Regions from separate parts of the Homo sapiens genome. Here region 1 is linked to region 2. The links come from fine-mapping of genetic effects on gene expression. A gene starts in region 2. The other region holds a variant in brackets. All regions are shown on one strand. Distances are from middle to middle.

Region 1 (8,777 bases), 930 kb before region 2:
CTTTCTGCTTTAAAATGAATAAATAAAATTTTGTCAAAAGAAACTTGTAGCTGTCATAATTCATTTTTCAAATAAATTTTAACATAGTTTTTTGCGGGTATATTAGATAAAGATAAGGTCATAATGGATTTAGGTAGACCCTAAATCCAGTGTGACTGATGTCCTTATCAGAAGGGGAGATGTACACACAGACAGACACACAGGAAAGAAGGCTGTGAGACAGTGGACGTAGATTGAAGTGATGCAGCTACAAGCCCAGGAATACTGAGGGATTGCCAGCAACTAACAGAAGCTAGAAAAAGGCAAGGAAGGGTTATTTTCTAGACGCCTCAGAGGAAGTATGGTCCTACTGACACCTTGATTTTGGACTTCTAGCTTCTGGCACTGTGGGAGAACACATTTTTGTTTCTCTTAAGCCCCCAGTGTGTGGTACTTTGTTATGGCAGCCCTAGAAAACTAATACAGTTGTGTTGGAATAGAGGCACCCACTTTTGTTCATAGTCCAGTTTTTTCATGACAGTTTGACTGACATCAGCTGACAACCCGTAACAGCTTTCTTTGTTCCATTTGTAATATACAAAGATCTTTAAAAATTATCAACCCTGTCCCTGGGGCTTTTCCAGTTGAAACCTCAGACTGTCTTCTAGCATAGAGGAAATCAAGTGTTCTAGATCAGAGATTGGAAAAGTGTCTGTAAAGAGACAGATAGTAGATATTTTAGGCTTTGCAGACCAAGAGGCAAAAGTCTTATATAACTACTTATAAAACAAGAAAGAAAACACATTTTCATGCATTTTTTACTGACAAAATTTAAAATATAAAAATAATTGTGTATAATTTTTTTGTAGTACAGGTCTAATAATGACTGGAATTCTTTTGAGGGTAATAACATTTCACTGCATTGGGATTCAAATGTGATTGGCCCATTATCAATGTTGATTGCTAATGTTCATTTGTTAATGCTGATCTATGCTGAGATTGTATCTCATTGAGTATTGCAATTCCACAAGTGAATGAGTATTTCATCTTTGAAAATATCTTTTTACGCGATAAGAACTGCCAAATACTAATATTGATTCGTGAGCATATGATTTTAATTGAGCATATTGATCACTTGAAAGGCATTTGTAGGGTTCTATTAAATGTTTCCCTTGACATTTTTAGCATATGATTACATTGCAAATTAATAGCTTCCAGTTGAAGGCTCAATGGAAGCCCTTCAAATGTTCGGTTAAATGGATTTTGAAATATGGAAATTTGTTTTGCCCTTGCATTGAGTCCAAAAGATGTTACTGAGACTGCAGTTAGAACTCAGAAAATATAACCACTGCAAATTTGCAAGGAAAATTGCATGGAGATCTCAATTCTTGTTTTATCTTTTAGTAACACTGGATGTGTATAGGGCAGGTTGACATTCAAGTAATGTTAGTTGTTGAAATGACTTTACTGCAGTATAAATTTCTTATATGAGCACTGCTTGGCCTTGTAATTTTAGGTGAAATTCATTAAGAAATACTATGAAGTCTACAGCAAAAACTAATTTCTAAAGCCATTCAGTATTGCTTAGTAGTGGCTGAGGACCGTTCTCATTTTAAACAATTTCAACTTCAGCCCTGAGCTCCAAAAAATTACAATAAAACGTTACCACTGCTGAACCACTGAATTGCTGTGTGGTACAGCAAGTCAGGATATTCAGCTTCTCTTTCTAACAAAAATTCATGGAACTGATTATGGTTATGTCCATGAGAGTGAATGAGTCTACCACTGAAACTTGGATCAATGACACATACCAGATAAAAACATTTTCAGCAAAGAACCCACTAATAAGTAACACAATAAATAACTGTAGATTTTAAATGCCTTACATTTTCCCAACCTTTGTAAATTTATCCAACTAAGCATTTTGCAGCTTCATACATATTTTTACTACCATTAAGTGTGACATATCGTAGTAGATTCCGTCTCAGATTGTACTGGATTAGTATTTTCTCAAATTCTTTGAAAATCTCTTACAATTTCACACATATTTTTACTGTCATCAGATTTGGTATTTCTTAGCAGATTCTACCACAGGTTGTACTAAATTGGTGTTTTCTCAAATTCTTTGAAAATATTCTCACCTCTAGTTGCTCCATGCAGACTATTTATAGAAGCTAATTCTTCAGTCACTTCCAAATTGGCATTGATTCCTTGAATCAGTAACAACTGAGCAGTATCAGTAACATTGTGGGCTCATCGGGAACCAAGAAAAACCACCCTAAATTATTTGTCTTTTTTTTTTAAATTGACTATTGATGTTGCTTCCAATGTCCTCAACTCTCTGAGCAATTGTTCTTACTGGAAGGCTAAAGGTCTTAAACAAGTTTATTTTCTCTGGACACATTTCTTTGGCTGTTGTAATTGATCTCAATTTAGTTAACTCACCATGGGTAAACCGCTTTCCTTGCTTGGCTAACAAGCCACTCAGAAACTTCTTTGGTTGCAAGCTCATTCTCATTTTTTGTTTTTGTGAAGAAATTCTGCTTTGATGAGAAATTCAAGTTTAAATTTTTCTAATCATTGCTTTCCTGTGAGATGAGAATGTCACAATGATTGTTCAGTCTGGTTATGTTGACATCTATTGTATTCTTTTAGCATAACTATATTGTCATTGCATAGTAAGCAAAATGTCTTGCCAAGTAATTCTATTATATAGCAAAGTAATACACACTCCACTGTATCTTAAAAGCTTGATATTCAAAGTCTACTTTTTCTTTCTTGTTATCACTTGATGGGTATTTACTGTTAATAATAAGAAATAAATTTAAGAGAGGGAAAAGAGGAAGGAAGGAAGGGAGAGAGGGAGGCGGGGAGGGGGCAGGGGGTAGAAACAAAAACAAAGAAAGAAAAGAGGCCAGTCGCGGTGGCTCATGCCTGTAATCGCAACGCTTTGGGAAGCTGAGTCGGGCGGATCACCTGAGGTCAGGAATTCTTCAAGACCAGCCTGGCCAACATGGTGAAACCCCATCTCTACTAAAAGTACAAAAATTAGCTGGGTGTGGTGGCATGAACCTGTAAGCCCAGCTACTTGGGGGGCTGAGGCAAGAGAATTGCTTGAACCCAGAAGGTGAAGGTTGCAGTGAGCTGAGATCATGCCACTGCACTCCAGCCTGGGTGACAGAGCAAGACTCTGTCAAACAAAAAACGAAAGAAAGAAAGAAAGAAAGAAAGAAAGAAAGAAAGAAAGAAAGAGAGAGAGAGGGAGGGAGGGAGGGGGAGAGAGAGAGAGAGAGAGAGAGAAAGAAAGAAAGGAAGAAAGAAAGAAAAGAGAAAGAAAGAAAAGAAAAGAAAGAAAAGAAAAAGAAAAGAAAGGAAGGAAGGAAGGAAAAAAAAGAAAGAAAAGGGAAGGAGGGAGGGAGGAATGTCACTGTATGATGCTAGAAATGCAGTTGAATTTTAACTTTCACTGCAATTTACAGCATTCCAAGCAGTAGTGCAAAGTGAGGATCACCATATACAGTCTCTGCCACAGCTACTCAACTTTGCCATTACAGTGTGAAAGGACATAGACAATAGGGAAACAAATGAGCATGACTGGGTTCCAGTAAATTTTATTTGTGGACAGTGAAATTTGAATCTCATAATAACTTTCATGTGTCATGAAATACCCTGATTTATATTTTCCCCAATCTTTTATAAATATAAAAACCATATTTATTCCATGGCCATATAAAAACAGGTGGTCTACCAGTTGTGGCTGGTGGGCTATAGTTTGCTGACTACTACATAGATCATTAGGTCATTTCCAAAGTTCATCCAGCTCTGTGAGCCTAAGATGCCCTTGAGACAGCAATCATCCTAGTTACTTCCTTTATGCAGGGCACCTGTCCACTTCTGTCTGCTTGAATATTTCAAAGAAAGGGATATGCAGTTTGCCTTACAACTTAACTTTTTTTTAACCATTTCATCTACTTTTATTTACTTTTGCCAAATTTATTCTTAGTTTGTTTTCTAATTGTTTACTTTTTTTAAGGAACAAAAAGCACAAAGATGAGAGCCATAATGTGTTACATCATTTGGGATCCATACAAAGGAAAAGACTTTTTTGATCTATTCATGCCCTAAAAATATACATTGCATAACAGTCCCAGAGGCTTCTCAATCCCACAAATGACTTAAGAACCAAAGTTCAAAGACAGACTAGTAGTTGTCAGGGTTGCAGGTAGGGAGAGAAATTAACTACAAAGAAGTAGCACAAGGGAATTTTGTGGTGTGGGGGTAGCAGAACGGCCTATGTCTTGTTAGTGATGATGGCTACAAGATTCTATGCATTTGTCAAAACTCACAAAACTTTACACCAAAAGAGTGAAGTTTACCATATGTAAATCTTAAAAGTGAGTAATAAAGAAACAAAATGTAACAGGGACATTGGTTTGAGCTCCAACATGTTAAGAACTTGGAAGTCATCTATGACATCAAAAGGAGAAAATTGATAGAGAAAATCCATAAAACCAAAAGATGGTTCTTTGAAAACATCAATCAAACTGATAAACTTCTAGCCAGGCTAACCAAGAAAAAAAGGCATAAATTGCTAGTATCACAAATGAAATAAAAATAACCACTACTAATCCCATCAACATTAAAAGGATAATAATAAAAGAATGCTATGAACAGTTCTATGCCCACAAATTTAAGAGAGATATTGGTCTGTAGTTTCTCTTGCTTATAATGTCTTTATTTGGTTTTGTTATTAGGGTAATGTTGGCTAATTCTATGCTAACTTAAATGAAATGGACCAAATCTTTAAAACACATAAACTACTAAAATTCACACAAAGAGAAGCAGATAAGTTGGATAGTCCTATCTTATCAAATAAATTTAATCAAGAATTAATAATCTTAAAAAAAGCACCAGGCCCAGATGGTTTCACTGGTTGAATTTATCAAACATTTAAGTAAAAATGATACTAGTTCTCTACAATCTCTTCCTGAAAACAAAAGCAGAGGGAACACTTCCAACTCATTTTGTAAAGCCAACATTACCCTAATAACAAAAGCAAATAAAGACATTATAAGCAAGAGAAACTACAGACCAATATCT[C/T]GCTTAAGCATAGATGTAAAATTTCTCAATAAAATATTAGTAAATTAAATCTAACTATGTATAAAAAGAATTATACAACATGATCAAGTGAGACTTTTTCCAGGTATGCAAGTGTATTAGTCAGGATTCTCTAGAGGTAGAGAACTAATGGGATATATATAAAGCGGAGTTTATTAAGTATTAACTCACATGATCACAAGGTCCTACAATAGGCCATCTGCAAGCTGAGGAGCAAGGAAAGTCAACCTGAGTCCCATAACTGAAGAACTTGGAGTCCAAAGTTCAAGAGCAGGAAGCATCCAGCATGGGAGAAAGACATAGGCTGGGAGGCTGGGCCAGTCTAGTCTTTTCAAATTTTTCTGACTGCTTTATATTCTAGTCATGCTGGCAGCTGATTAGATGGTACCCACCCAGATTAAGGGTGGGTTTGCCTTTCCCAGCCCACTGACTCAAATGTTCATCTCCTTTGGCAACATCCTCACAGACACACCTAGGATCAATACTTTGCATCCTTCAATCCAATTAAGTTGACACTCAGTATTAACATCACAGCAAGGCTACTTTAACATTTCAGAACAAGTTAATGTAATCTATCACAAGAGGATAAAGAAGGAAAATCATATGGTCATATCCACAGATGCAGAAAAGCATTTGGCAAAATCCAATACATTTGCATGATTTAAAAAGAGAACAAAAACAAAACTCTCAGCAAACTAAGAATAGGGGGATCTTCCTCAACTTGATAAAGCGCATGTAAGACACACCAATAAAAGTTATAGTTAATGGTGAGAAATGAAACACTTTCTGAAATTATCCTATCGCCTGATATAAAGAAGCCAGATAGGTGAAAGACATCCAGAAAGATCACTTTCCTTGTAATCTCTTTAGAGGTTTACAAACCAAAACAAAAAAACCACATGTTGGTTCTTCCTCTTTCTATATTGTCACTTCTTAGAATGGGATCAATAGCCCTCAAATATATCATTCTCTTCCCTCACCCATCAAACCATTTATTTGGGCTTTCTAAGCAGGGATCCAACTTTGAACAATCTTTTTACCTACTTGTAGTGTAACACACTCACCCCTTCCAAACTTTCAACTTTCAAAGTCCACACCTTCCAAGGTACCCTTCTTAACAACTTCCCCATTTAAGTTATATTCATTCCCAAGATACAGATTCTATGACTTCCCTACATAAAAACATGATCAGCTTGATTTTGAATAAAAACTACTCACAAATAGGATACATGTTTCTTCTTCCCATAGCACAGCAAGTTAGAGCCTATATTAATCGACAGAGATGATAACATATCAGGACACCAAGAACAATTCTGATCTGTTGAAGCTTTTCTAGTTCAACTCTGACACTAACGGTTGACTAGTCAACAGCTTGTGATTCTATCTTTAACTAGGTTGAAGAAAACGCAGCTAGTCAGATATTTAGAGTAAAAAACTCTCAGACACTGAAGGGTACCTTACGTCATCAGAGGGAAGTCATGTGCTGTCTCGGAGTTTACTTCTTCATTACTGTCAGAGGCATTCAAACTAGAGTGACTCCATCTTGAATAGTGACTGGGTAAAATAAGGCTGAGACCTAATGGGCTACATTCCCAGGTAGTTAAGGCATTCTTAGTCACAGGATAAGATAGGAGGTTGGCACAAGATACAGGTCACAAAGACCTTGCTGATAAAGTAAAGAAGCTGGCCAAATCCCAGCAAAACCAAGATGGTGACAAAAGTTACCTCTGGTCTTCACTGCTCATTATACGATAATTATATAATGCATTAGCATGCTAAAAGACACTCCCACCAGTGCCATTGACAGTTTACAAATGCCATGTCAATGTCAGAAAGTTACCCTATATGGTCTAAAAAGGGGAGGAACCCTCAGTTCTGGGAATTGCCCACCCCTTTGCCAGAAAACTCATGAATAATCCACCCCTTATTTAGCATATAATCAAGAACTAATAATAATTATAAGCAGCCGAGCAGCCCATGCCTCTGGTCTGCCTGTGAATAAGACATTCTTTTATTTCTTCACTTTCTTAGTAAACTTCCTTTCACTTTATGGATTAGCTTCAAATTCTTTCTTGTACAAGACCCAAGAACCCTCTCTTGGGATCTGGATTCAGACCCCTTTCAGGTAACATTACACACAGCTAAAAGATTACCTGCAAATAGCATGTCTGTCCTTATGCTCTGTTGATTTTTTTGGTTCTACAGGGTAAAATCCAGCGTTGCATAAATAATGGGTGATGCCAAAAATCTTCACTGTTAGTCATTTGTTTAGATGTCAGTTTCAAAACCTGGTTGTCTAGACAGCTAAAACTGGCTGAGTGCAGGGAGTTTCCAATTTCCACAAATGGGAATTGATGGAAAGAGTCAGCTAAGGAAACCAGCCTGAAAGCATGATGTTTCTGGAACCTCAAAGATAAGCCATTAGCAAGCTGAAGAGTCACTGGCAACAGGTTATGCTTTAAACGGTTCATATATAGGAGCTTCTTAAATATAGCTTCAATATAGACTCCACCTAATAACAAATGAATAGCACAGGGAGTAAAACCGAATCACAACAATGACAGCAATCCTTCCAGTAAAGAAGATACCAGGGAGATAATATATGCTGCACAAACTGTACATTTGACAGCTCTAGGGGTTGCCATTTACATAGTATTCCACATAAATCATGCCTGCTAGAGATGTGCAGTGCACAACTTGTGCAACCATAAGCAGAAAACCCCAAAAGATTCTGTCATTAATATATAACAAAAATGCACATGACAAAGAGCACAAATTTTATGTCTGAAGTTATAAGCATTATGAATTGTATTTATTTAAAAGAGAAAGATTGATAAATTGGATTTTGTCAAATTAAAACTTTTATGAAGGACACCTGTATGAGAACAAAAAGACAAGCTACAGACTGGGAGAAAATATTTGCAAATCACATATCCAGCAAAGATCTTTTATCCAGAATATTATATATACAAGTACATGAAAAGAAGCTCTGCAGTATTAACATTTAGGGAAATAAGGTGCCTTTACATATGTAAAAGAATGGCTAATATATATATATATATTTTGGAAGACAATACCAAATACTGGCAAGGATGTTGGGCAACTGCAACTGTCATGCACTGCTGGTGGGATGCACTGCTGGTGGGATGGTACACCTACCTTGGAAAACAGTTTGGCAGTTTCTAATAAAGTCAAACATATGTTTATCATATGACCTCACTCCAGGGTATTTACTCTAGAGAGGTGAAAACATATTCACACAAAAACCCATACAGAGATGCTTATAGCAGTTCTATTCATAATTGACCAAAACTGGAAATAACACAAATGTCATTCAACAAGTGAATGGTTAAACAAACTCTGGAATATCCATACAATGAAAGTTCGCTCAGGAAAAAAAAGGAACTATTGATATATGAATAATATGAATGTATCTCAAAGGCATTACGCGGAATGAAAGAAAACAGTCTAAAAAATTAAATAAAATAAAGTTCTATTTATATGATATTGTGGAAGTGCAAAGCTATGGAGATGGAGATCAGGGGTTGTCAGGGTTAGGGTGGAGGAGGAGTTGACTACAATGGGACAGCATGAGGGAATTTGGGGGGTCCATTGAACTGCTCTATATTTTGATGGGGTGGTGGTTATATGGCTCTGCGCATGTATTAAAGCTCAGCCAG
Region 2 (8,777 bases):
ATTTATAGGTGTTACTGAAATTTAGGATTTATGGGTGAAATATGTTAATGGAAAGAAAAGCTGTTTAAAATAGGCCCCTAATAGACAGAAAACAGAAGTAATACCAGATGTTAAAAAGATACCCCTCAATATAGAAATCCACAAATATGTGGATGAAAGAAAAATTAAGAGAATTGAAAGCTAAAAATAGATACCCAGAAGGGAGCTCATGGTAACCATGTACCAAATCTCCTAATGATACAGTAGATACAAGTAAAGCTGCCTTGAGAGAGATTATGAAACAAACAAAATAGAGTACTTTTAAGAAAACCTAAATTGTCTACATCTGCTATAATGTATGCTCCAAGAGGGGAAGAAGGTCTTTGTTTTGTTTGCTAACTCTTCTCCAGTGTCTGAACAATACCAGACACATGGCAGGTTCCATGAATTAACTAATCTATACATCAGCTGATGTATCATTAGTATCATTCTGGTAACAACCAACAACAAAAAGTAAAGGCTCATACTCTTGATTATTCTTAAAATGTAGTGGAATGAAAGAAGGAAACTGCTACTTTGGCTGCTTTTAAGTCTGAGAACCACATTTCCTTCTGATTTGCCAAGTGCTTCTCAGAATTAAGAGTCCTGTCAGCCAGACAAATGAAAAAAGCCATTCCAAGCAAAGGGAAGGTTTAGCAGTGGCAAATGCCATGGCATATTTTGAGAAACAAGGGGAATACTGATTTCAGTGTGTCTAAATCATAGCACATGTATATTGGACAGAAATGGTAAAGAATGACAGATGTGGTTCCAAAGGTTGGAGCGCAGTTTGAAAAGAGGTTTGTAAGACATTTGAAATGTTTAACCATATCTCATTTAACCCAAGAAATTGCACTATCAGCTTTATGTTACAGAACAATAATCCTGGCAGCTGTATAGAGGATGATGGAAAAAGGATTAGTCACACAGCAATGTGCTGAAGTTGCCTCTTATTGGCTCTTGAGCACAGACTGTTACATTTTCAGGAATTCTGTGAGCCAGTTGACCTTTCACACAGATATCTTAAAATCTACGATGGTGAGAGTATTTACACCATGGTAATCAGCAAACACTACAAAAATCAGGGCTTTTTCTATTTTCCCACAAAGCCAATTAACCAATACACCCAAGAAATAGAACCACAGAGGCCAGTAAAGTACTATGTTAACAGCCTAAGACATAATGAAGGCCCGACTAAGACCTGAATAAGTGGCACTAAGAATGTCAAAGTGACAAATTTGACAAATATTCACACTGCACAGGATGTAGGACTTAGTGACAAGCTGAAAATGGGTGATTAGGTAGAACAAACAAGGATTCCCAAATTTCTGGATTAAGCAACTGATACAGGAAATTTAGTTTTACACTAACTTAGACCACTAGACACTGAATATACCAAGATGAACATAAACTTCTGCCTCCAAGGAATTCATAATTTACAAGGGGAACAAGCACACATTTACCTAACAACATAGTAAACACAGATAACAGAAACTACCAGAGGAAAAGATTAGGAGAGAAGAACAGAAAAAGTGAATTCATTTCATTTTTTCATATGTAAACCTTGTACTATTTGTTCATATGTAGGTTTTCATGTGTATTATAGAACTAGCACTGCTTGTTTACTATCAAAATAGAAATGTCCATACAGGTTATGGAATGGCATATCATAAAAAAATTAAGATAGAAATGTCCAGTAGGCAGTTAAAAATATAGTTTTATAATTCAGAAGACAGGTAAGGAGCATACTGAAACCACAGACAAGACCAGATGATTTAGGAAAAAAAAGTTTTAGAATGCACAAAAAGGCAGGAAAATGAGGAAGATAGGAAAGTGGGGGGTGGACAGAGAAAATGAAAGCAATCAAAGAGACTAAAGAGTGCTCAGGGAGAAAGAGAAACAAAAAAGAATGGCAAAAGCCAAAAGAAGGGATAAAGAAAGTAAGTATTAGTATTGTCATAGAGCTTACAAAGATCAAACACAACGGGATGTGGCATTTGAGGGCTGACAGCCTTTAAAGAGATGAATTATATAATGCTTCTCTTTTATAGTTTCCTCATTCCCATAGAGGGCATATCAGAAACACCTCACCAATTTTCATACTATGCATCTGTGCTCACCAAGCCTATCAATCCGATACTCTGTCATTGGCCAAATCCCCGATATAGTGAATCAAAGTTTCTGCTGGAAATGCTTAATTCCTCAGGAATGTTGGGGGTGGAGGGGCAACAGAGACCGCTTAATTCAGAACAAACTGAACTGACAAGTATCTACAGGAACCTGGAAAAGAGCACCTAGAGAATTAAGAATTTTTAAAAAGCACGGCACCCATAAACCGCATGAGGAAAGTATTTCAAGAAAGGAATCAAATGTTATTACAAGTTAAAGGACCAAAAAAGTGTCCATTTGTCGTATGTGCAAGAAAGTCATTGAAAACCTTGCAAAGTTACTTCAATGGCATAGATTGAGGGTGACTGAGTCCCCAGGAAACAGGAAGAAAAAATCCAGAGCAAAGTAGGAGGCACTATCCTTAGAACGGAGCAGAGACTCGGCCGGGCGTGGTGGCTCACGCCTGTAATCCCAGCACTCTGGGAGGCCAAGGCAGGCAGATCACGAGGTCAGGAGATCGAGACCATCCTGGCTAACACGGTGAAACCCCGTCTCTACTAAAAATACAAAAAATTAGCTAGGCATAGTGATGGGCGCTTGTAGTCCCAGCTTCTCAGGAGGCTGAGCCAGGAGAATGGCGTGAACCCCGGAGGCAGAGCTTGCAGTGAGCCGAGACTGCGCCACTGCACTCCAGCCTGGGCAACAGCGCGAGACTCCGTCTCAAAAAAAAAAAAGAAAGAAAGAAAGAAAGGAGCAGAGGCTCCACTTCCGTTGCAATTGAAAAGGCAAGGGAAAAAAGGTGCAACAGATGGTTATACGTTGAGGTTAAATTCATAGGTTTGATGGGCAAGAAATGGAGAAAGTTCACATCTGATGGATCCTCTTTTTCTCCCCAGGGAAGCTTAAAGTCATTTGTTGAGCTTGAAGCGAAAGGTTTGAAAAGGGTAAAGAAGATTTAAACAATCACTGTGGAGAATGGCAGAGAACCAAGGAGGAAAATACAGAAGGCAGAACTGAAGAGTATTTACCGTCCAAGAACTGATTACAATTCCTGAAATACATCCTACTGAAACATATATCCAATGTTCCACTGTTCACCTGGGGAAGTCCTGTCTACAGTTTAAAACGTCTCCACCTAGAAAGCCTTTTCTGACATTTCCTAACCAGTTTCCAACCCCCAGTTATCATTCTCCTCTGTATTAATGCTCTACTTTATATGCAATCCTACTGCTATCTTACATCACTATATTACAGCACCTACCTTTATAGTCTACAAGATTATTTCCTCTACTAGATGGTGAACTACTTGAGGGCAAAAATTGCACGTGTATCAGGAGCAACTGCAAATATATCAGGGTCTCTGCCTTGTATCTAAAGTTTAAATTCAGTTTAGCCAAGTTTTAGACAGAGACCCGGTCCTAGAGTTTCCAACATGAAATAGTTCAGAAAACATCATTGCTTTTGACAAAAGTACATAAATTATCATGAAAAGGCACGTAATTCAGGATGACAATAAAATATTTAACAGTCAGAGAAAATAAACAATAATTTGGAACTTTATTTCATTTATTACCCACTTCGGTCTTCAAATGTGTGCATGTGCTTCTAACTGCGATGATGAATTTAAAAAACATTCTGCACCTACTGTATGCAAGATACTGCTATTCACACTGTGGGATATTAAAAAAAGTTTGCAATACAGAAGAGATTAAAACAAGTATACAAATGATTTTAGTACAAGGTAGAATGCGATGGCCACTAGAGAAAAAATTAAGAACAGGTGAGAAGGGCTTTATTTTTATGCTTATAAATGTGAACTTTATTCTGAAGGATAAGAGATTCGGGACATGGTAACTGGATTGACACAACTGAATATGCTTTTCAAGTATATTATATCTAACTTTTCTTATTTTGGGCAACTTCTCTCCAAACTGACTAGCAATAAAATCTGACTGCTAGATTCTGTACAAATGGTTAATCCCAACCTGAACAAATGTCTCAAACCCTCCCCCACGTGTCACTGTAGATAACTGCCTCATAAAGGAGGAAAAAAAAAACCAGCCTGTAAGAGGGGTCACCTGTACAGTCCATTTGTTAAAGGAGTAAGCGTTTCCAGCTCTACTTTAAAACAAGGCCCTATTTCATTATGCGTCTGCCGTCTGTTCTAGAGCTTACACTTTTGAAGAGCTCGAACGCTACACCCCTTCGTCAAGAACTGCGGCAGCAGCCGGTGGCTGCCAACGCGGTCCACAGGGTTTGGGCTCCCGAAACTTCAGGGAAGCTGGAGGCATGGGGGGGGGGGGGGTCGAGTTGAAATGAGGAACACACAGAAACCAAGTGTCCCCAAGACTCCAGAAAAGAGGGAGCCAGTCCCAGAGTAAATAGGTTGGCTAGAACAGTACCCAAGCCAGGGGGCCGGGCGGAGGGGAGTGGTCACGTCCAGACTGGAAAACTTTCTGCAAAGCAACGGGTTGGGTCCACCTCGCTGTCCAGGTGCGGAGCAGCGCAGACCCCCAACCCCACGACCTGGTCAGACCCCGTCTCCTTACCGTCCTGCAGAAGTTCCCGGACTGTAGCTGCAGCCGCTCCAGAGCCTCGAGCTCCGAGGCCAGCTACAGCGACGCTGCCGCCGCCACCTTCCATGTTGGCAGGTGCCGGGTTGATGTCGTCAGCAGCAGAACGGCTCCGCCCAGGTGGTGACGCAGAATCCCGGCGCCGCCCGCCCACCCAGCCCATGGCTCCAGGCCCACCTGGCGAACTGACTCTCAGCCCGCGCCTGGGCTAAGCCTGGCTAGGAGCCGCGCAGGTACTCGAGCAGTGGGCGCCCAGGGTCCGAGTGCTCTGCGCCCAGCGCACCGAGGGAGCCAAGGCCGTCGGGCCGGCGCTTTCAGCTGTCTCTCGCAGCAGCTCAGGGCCGCGCCCCCTGGGCTGGCGTCGTGCCCTAGCCAAGGAGAAGGTGGGCACCGGAACGTGGCCGCAGCGCTTATCTGTGAAGCAAGTATTAAACCTCAGAACAGGGGCCGCGCGGCGTAAGGCAGGAGAGCAGAGCGGAGGTTTCAGGGAGCTTCGTTTGCCCTCCACACTCACAAGAGTCACGCGTTAGTTGCTACACAGCTTTATCTGTTCCACGCCTTGATTGGCACTCCTGGGGTAATAAAAGCCCGCAGGAAATGCTTGGGAAGAAAAGTTGCTGGGGATGAACAGTGAAGAGAATTAGGGAGAGTCGATGAAGAAGGAAGTCTGAACCATAAAAGGACCAATAAAACTCACTGTCTCTACCCTCCTTCCTTCCCATGAGACCTTTGACCTTTTGCCTTTTCTACTTCTTCCTCAGTTTCAGTCACGTGCCAGACTTTTTCTTAATTACAAACTGATAGATGGTCCACATCTCAACTAACAGTATTGACGCTGTAAGAGCATCAGGTTGGTTCCCATTGTATCTTCTTTACTAATACGTTCGCGTTTTTGACCTAGATTTCTTTCTTCTAAGATAAATACTGATAAATTAACAGGGTCAGGCAACCACAAGTATGCAAGACAGTCTTAAGCTTCTTCGCAAAAAGAAGCTGGAAGATGACTTTTTCATTTTGTACAGTAGGTATGTATCCAGGAAACCAATTTTATCCAGTTCCAGAGCTACGTGGTTTTCTACATTCTGTTTCAAAAAGGTGCTATTACTTATCCTGTGCTTATCGCTGTTCTAAGTATTTTATAACTCAATGCATTTCATACTCATAACACCTCAGGTAAGCAAGTCTTATGCTACACTGCATTATGCTCTCTTTGTCTCAGAGGATTTTCCCTAGTATGTAAGATCTTAGTCATGATGGGAATAGGGGTGATTCATTCATTACTTGTGAATTAGGAATTGTTTTTCCTTCCTTGGCTTTATTCCCCCCAGTGGAAGATTTTAGAAGAGTGAGTAATATTCATTCATACAGCGAAAGTTTTGACCCCTCTACTCTGCATGCTCTCATGAGTTTACAAACATAAGACTCAATCCATATTCTAAAAGGAGTTAATAGGTAAGGTAGGAACCCATTTAAACAAACAATTGTACCAGGTGCTTTGGAATCTTTGGATTTACTTATTCCAGTAATTCCAAGCTTAGCTGCACATTGAAATCACCTGAAGAGCTTTAATAAAAACACTGATGCCTGCATCCTGAGCCCAGACGTTTGGATTTAATTGGTCTAGGGTATGGCTTGGGCATGCTAATTCTTAAAAGCTCCTCGGGTCATTGTAGTGTACAACTAAGGTAGAAAGCTACTGATTGTTTTGTTTTGTTGAGTTGGGGTCTAGCTCTGTTACCCAGGCTGGAGTGCAGTGGCAGGATCGTGGCTCACTGCAGCCTCAACCTCCTGGGCTCAAGGGATCCTCCTGCCCAAGCTTCTGGAGTAGTTGGGATCACAGTCGCTTGCTACCACGCCCAGCTGATTTTTATAATTTTTTTAGAGATGGGGGTCTCACTATATTGCCCAAGCTGGTCTCAAACTCCTGGCCTTAAGCAAGCCTCCCACCTTGGCCTCCCAAAATGCTGAGTTTACAGGTGTGAGCCCAGTCCCCTGAAACCTACTGATTTATTCTTTCAGCAAATAAATATTGAGGCCTTCTGTATGCCATTTACTATGACTGCAGGAGTGGATAAAAATGAAGTAATTCTTGCTAAAATCACTAATGACCTTGTTGCCATTGCGCTTTATTTTTGCCTTACTTTGATGTTTAAGATACCTATCCCCTCCTTCCTTCATAATGGTCTCTCTCGTTTTCTGAGTATCACTCTTTAGGTTTATTCCTCCCAGCTCCAAAGTTCATCTTCAGTCTCTTTTGCTCTCCCCTTTTCCTCTGTTACTTAAATATTGGTGCTTCCAGCGGTTTCTTGCAAGATCCTGACATCCTTAAGTACCTTGGCTATTTTTAATTTCAACTCCTTGCCTAAAGGTTAAAGACTCTAAAGTTTGAGCAATTAGACCATTCTAAAGTTGGCCCATATCTGATTCTTTTTTTTGTTGTTGTTATTTTCTGCTTCATTTTTCCTTCATACATACCTGTTTCTAAGTTACTGAGGCCAAGGACTGGAATATGAAAAGTAGCCAACACTGTGAAATAGTAGGATTTTAAGTATAGCAAATGTAAAACATTTACAAACTCCATAATTTCATCACTCGTACCTGTACCTCTTGGGGTATAAAAGTGATTTACAATGCAATTGTAGAATTATAATTGAAATTTTCACTAGATAATATCACATTAAAATTTTTAAAAATAATTAACGTTTGTTTATCTTCTGATTCACAGACAGAACAGGATTCAAGAATTACAATAAAAGCACCAGCATATCTTTTGAAACACTGACTACTTAAGAGTTGCTCTATTAATGCCATTTAACTTTCCTGAATAAAACAAGATATTTCCAAATGCCAGTCGAGTATCATATATAAAATAATTCAAACCAAATTTCTTGGCTTACCAATCCCAACAAAGTAACATGTAAAAAATTTTTAAATAACATGAAAACTTACAACATGGTAAACTAGGGAAAAAAAAAAAATCTCGTTTTCTGCATCTTGTGTTTCCACAACTATCTTGGGTAGTTTTCCACATCTATTTATCTTACAAATAGAGGCAGCATTCTATAGTATCATATTGGATACTGTGAAAATAAGCTATTAATAAAAAAATTTCTGAGCCCACAAGCCTGATAAAAAATATATGTTGTTGGCAGTTGAAATTGTTAGAATGGAATTAATATAGTGAAAACATATTTTCTCTATACAAGCTTATTGTCTTTTTCAGATTTGAAACATATCTGTATTAATGAAGAGTGACTGCATGCAAACGACAATATGTCAGGAAAGAAAAAAAGATCCCATAGAAATGTTTCATTCTGGACAGCTGGTAAAAGTCTGTGCCCCAATGGTTCGATATTCAAAGTAAGTGTTGCAAAATGATTAATGAACTAAGATGAAATTTCCCTTTTATGCTCTGACTTTTTAAAAGTACTGTAAGACCACCCACCATATGGGAACTTCAAACTCTTAGCTTTGGAATCATGACTTAGAATTGAGTCATGATGCTACTACTTGCCTAGTATATATGTGATCCTGAGTAAACAATTAACTTCTCTGAGCTGCACTTTTTATATCTATAAAAATGGTGGTGGTTGTAACTCCTACCTATAAGTATATAATGGATATTAAATAGATATAAGTATTGATGTATAGATTTTTATGTGAACTTAAGTCTTGGGACAAATAGGAGTGCAATTATGGGTCCTAAGGTAGTTGTGTGTTCAGTTTTCGAAGAAATATTTCTTCGTATCTTTTGCTCATCTTCTAATTGGATTGTTTGCTCTTTTACTATTGAGTTTTTTTAGAAGTTTGTTATAAAATATACGTAACATAAAATTTACCTCTCGATCATTTTTAAGTATACAGTTCAGCAGTGTTAATTACATTCACATTGTTGTGCATCTGATCTCTAAAACTCTTTTCATCTTAGAAGATGGAAATTCTATCACATTAAACTGTGACTCCCCATTCCACTGTTCCTCACAGCAGCCCCTGGCAACCATTATTCTACTTTCTCCCTCTATGAACTTCACTACTCTAGGTACCTCATATAAGTCTTATACGTATTTGTTCAGAACT

Alleles and levels. Alleles are on the strand shown, and positions count from the first base shown. SD is a standard deviation of normalised expression in the study named.
With allele C in place of T in region 1, the expression in prefrontal cortex of the gene that starts at base 4,845 in region 2 is lower (moderate effect, 0.58 SD a copy in GTEx).

Evidence for each region. PIP is the estimated chance that this variant, and not a neighbour inherited with it, causes the effect.
Region 1: its variant is the best candidate, but not a certain one, in a credible set for the expression of DUS4L-BCAP29 in prefrontal cortex (GTEx, PIP 0.54).

Annotation. Positions count from the first base shown.
Region 1 is chr7:106,633,207-106,641,983 of GRCh38, forward strand. No RefSeq gene overlaps it. Among named protein-coding and RNA genes, the nearest start is that of CCDC71L, 24 kb to the right of the region's middle. The variant C/T (reference allele first, on the strand shown) is at 5,080.
Region 2 is chr7:107,559,127-107,567,903 of GRCh38, forward strand. DUS4L-BCAP29 (DUS4L-BCAP29 readthrough) reads left to right here and starts at 4,845. Exons shown (of 13, transcript NR_163941.2): 1 at 4,845-5,083; 2 at 5,462-5,550; 3 at 7,924-8,060. It overlaps COG5 (component of oligomeric golgi complex 5), which reads right to left and starts at 4,794. Exons shown (of 22, transcript NM_006348.5): 1 at 4,677-4,794. The coding sequence starts at 4,770. DUS4L (dihydrouridine synthase 4 like) reads left to right here and starts at 4,845. Exons shown (of 8, transcript NM_181581.3): 1 at 4,845-5,083; 2 at 5,462-5,550; 3 at 7,924-8,060. The coding sequence starts at 7,945. RefSeq lists silencers at 4,673-4,883, 4,922-5,021 and enhancers at 4,722-4,841, 5,372-6,571.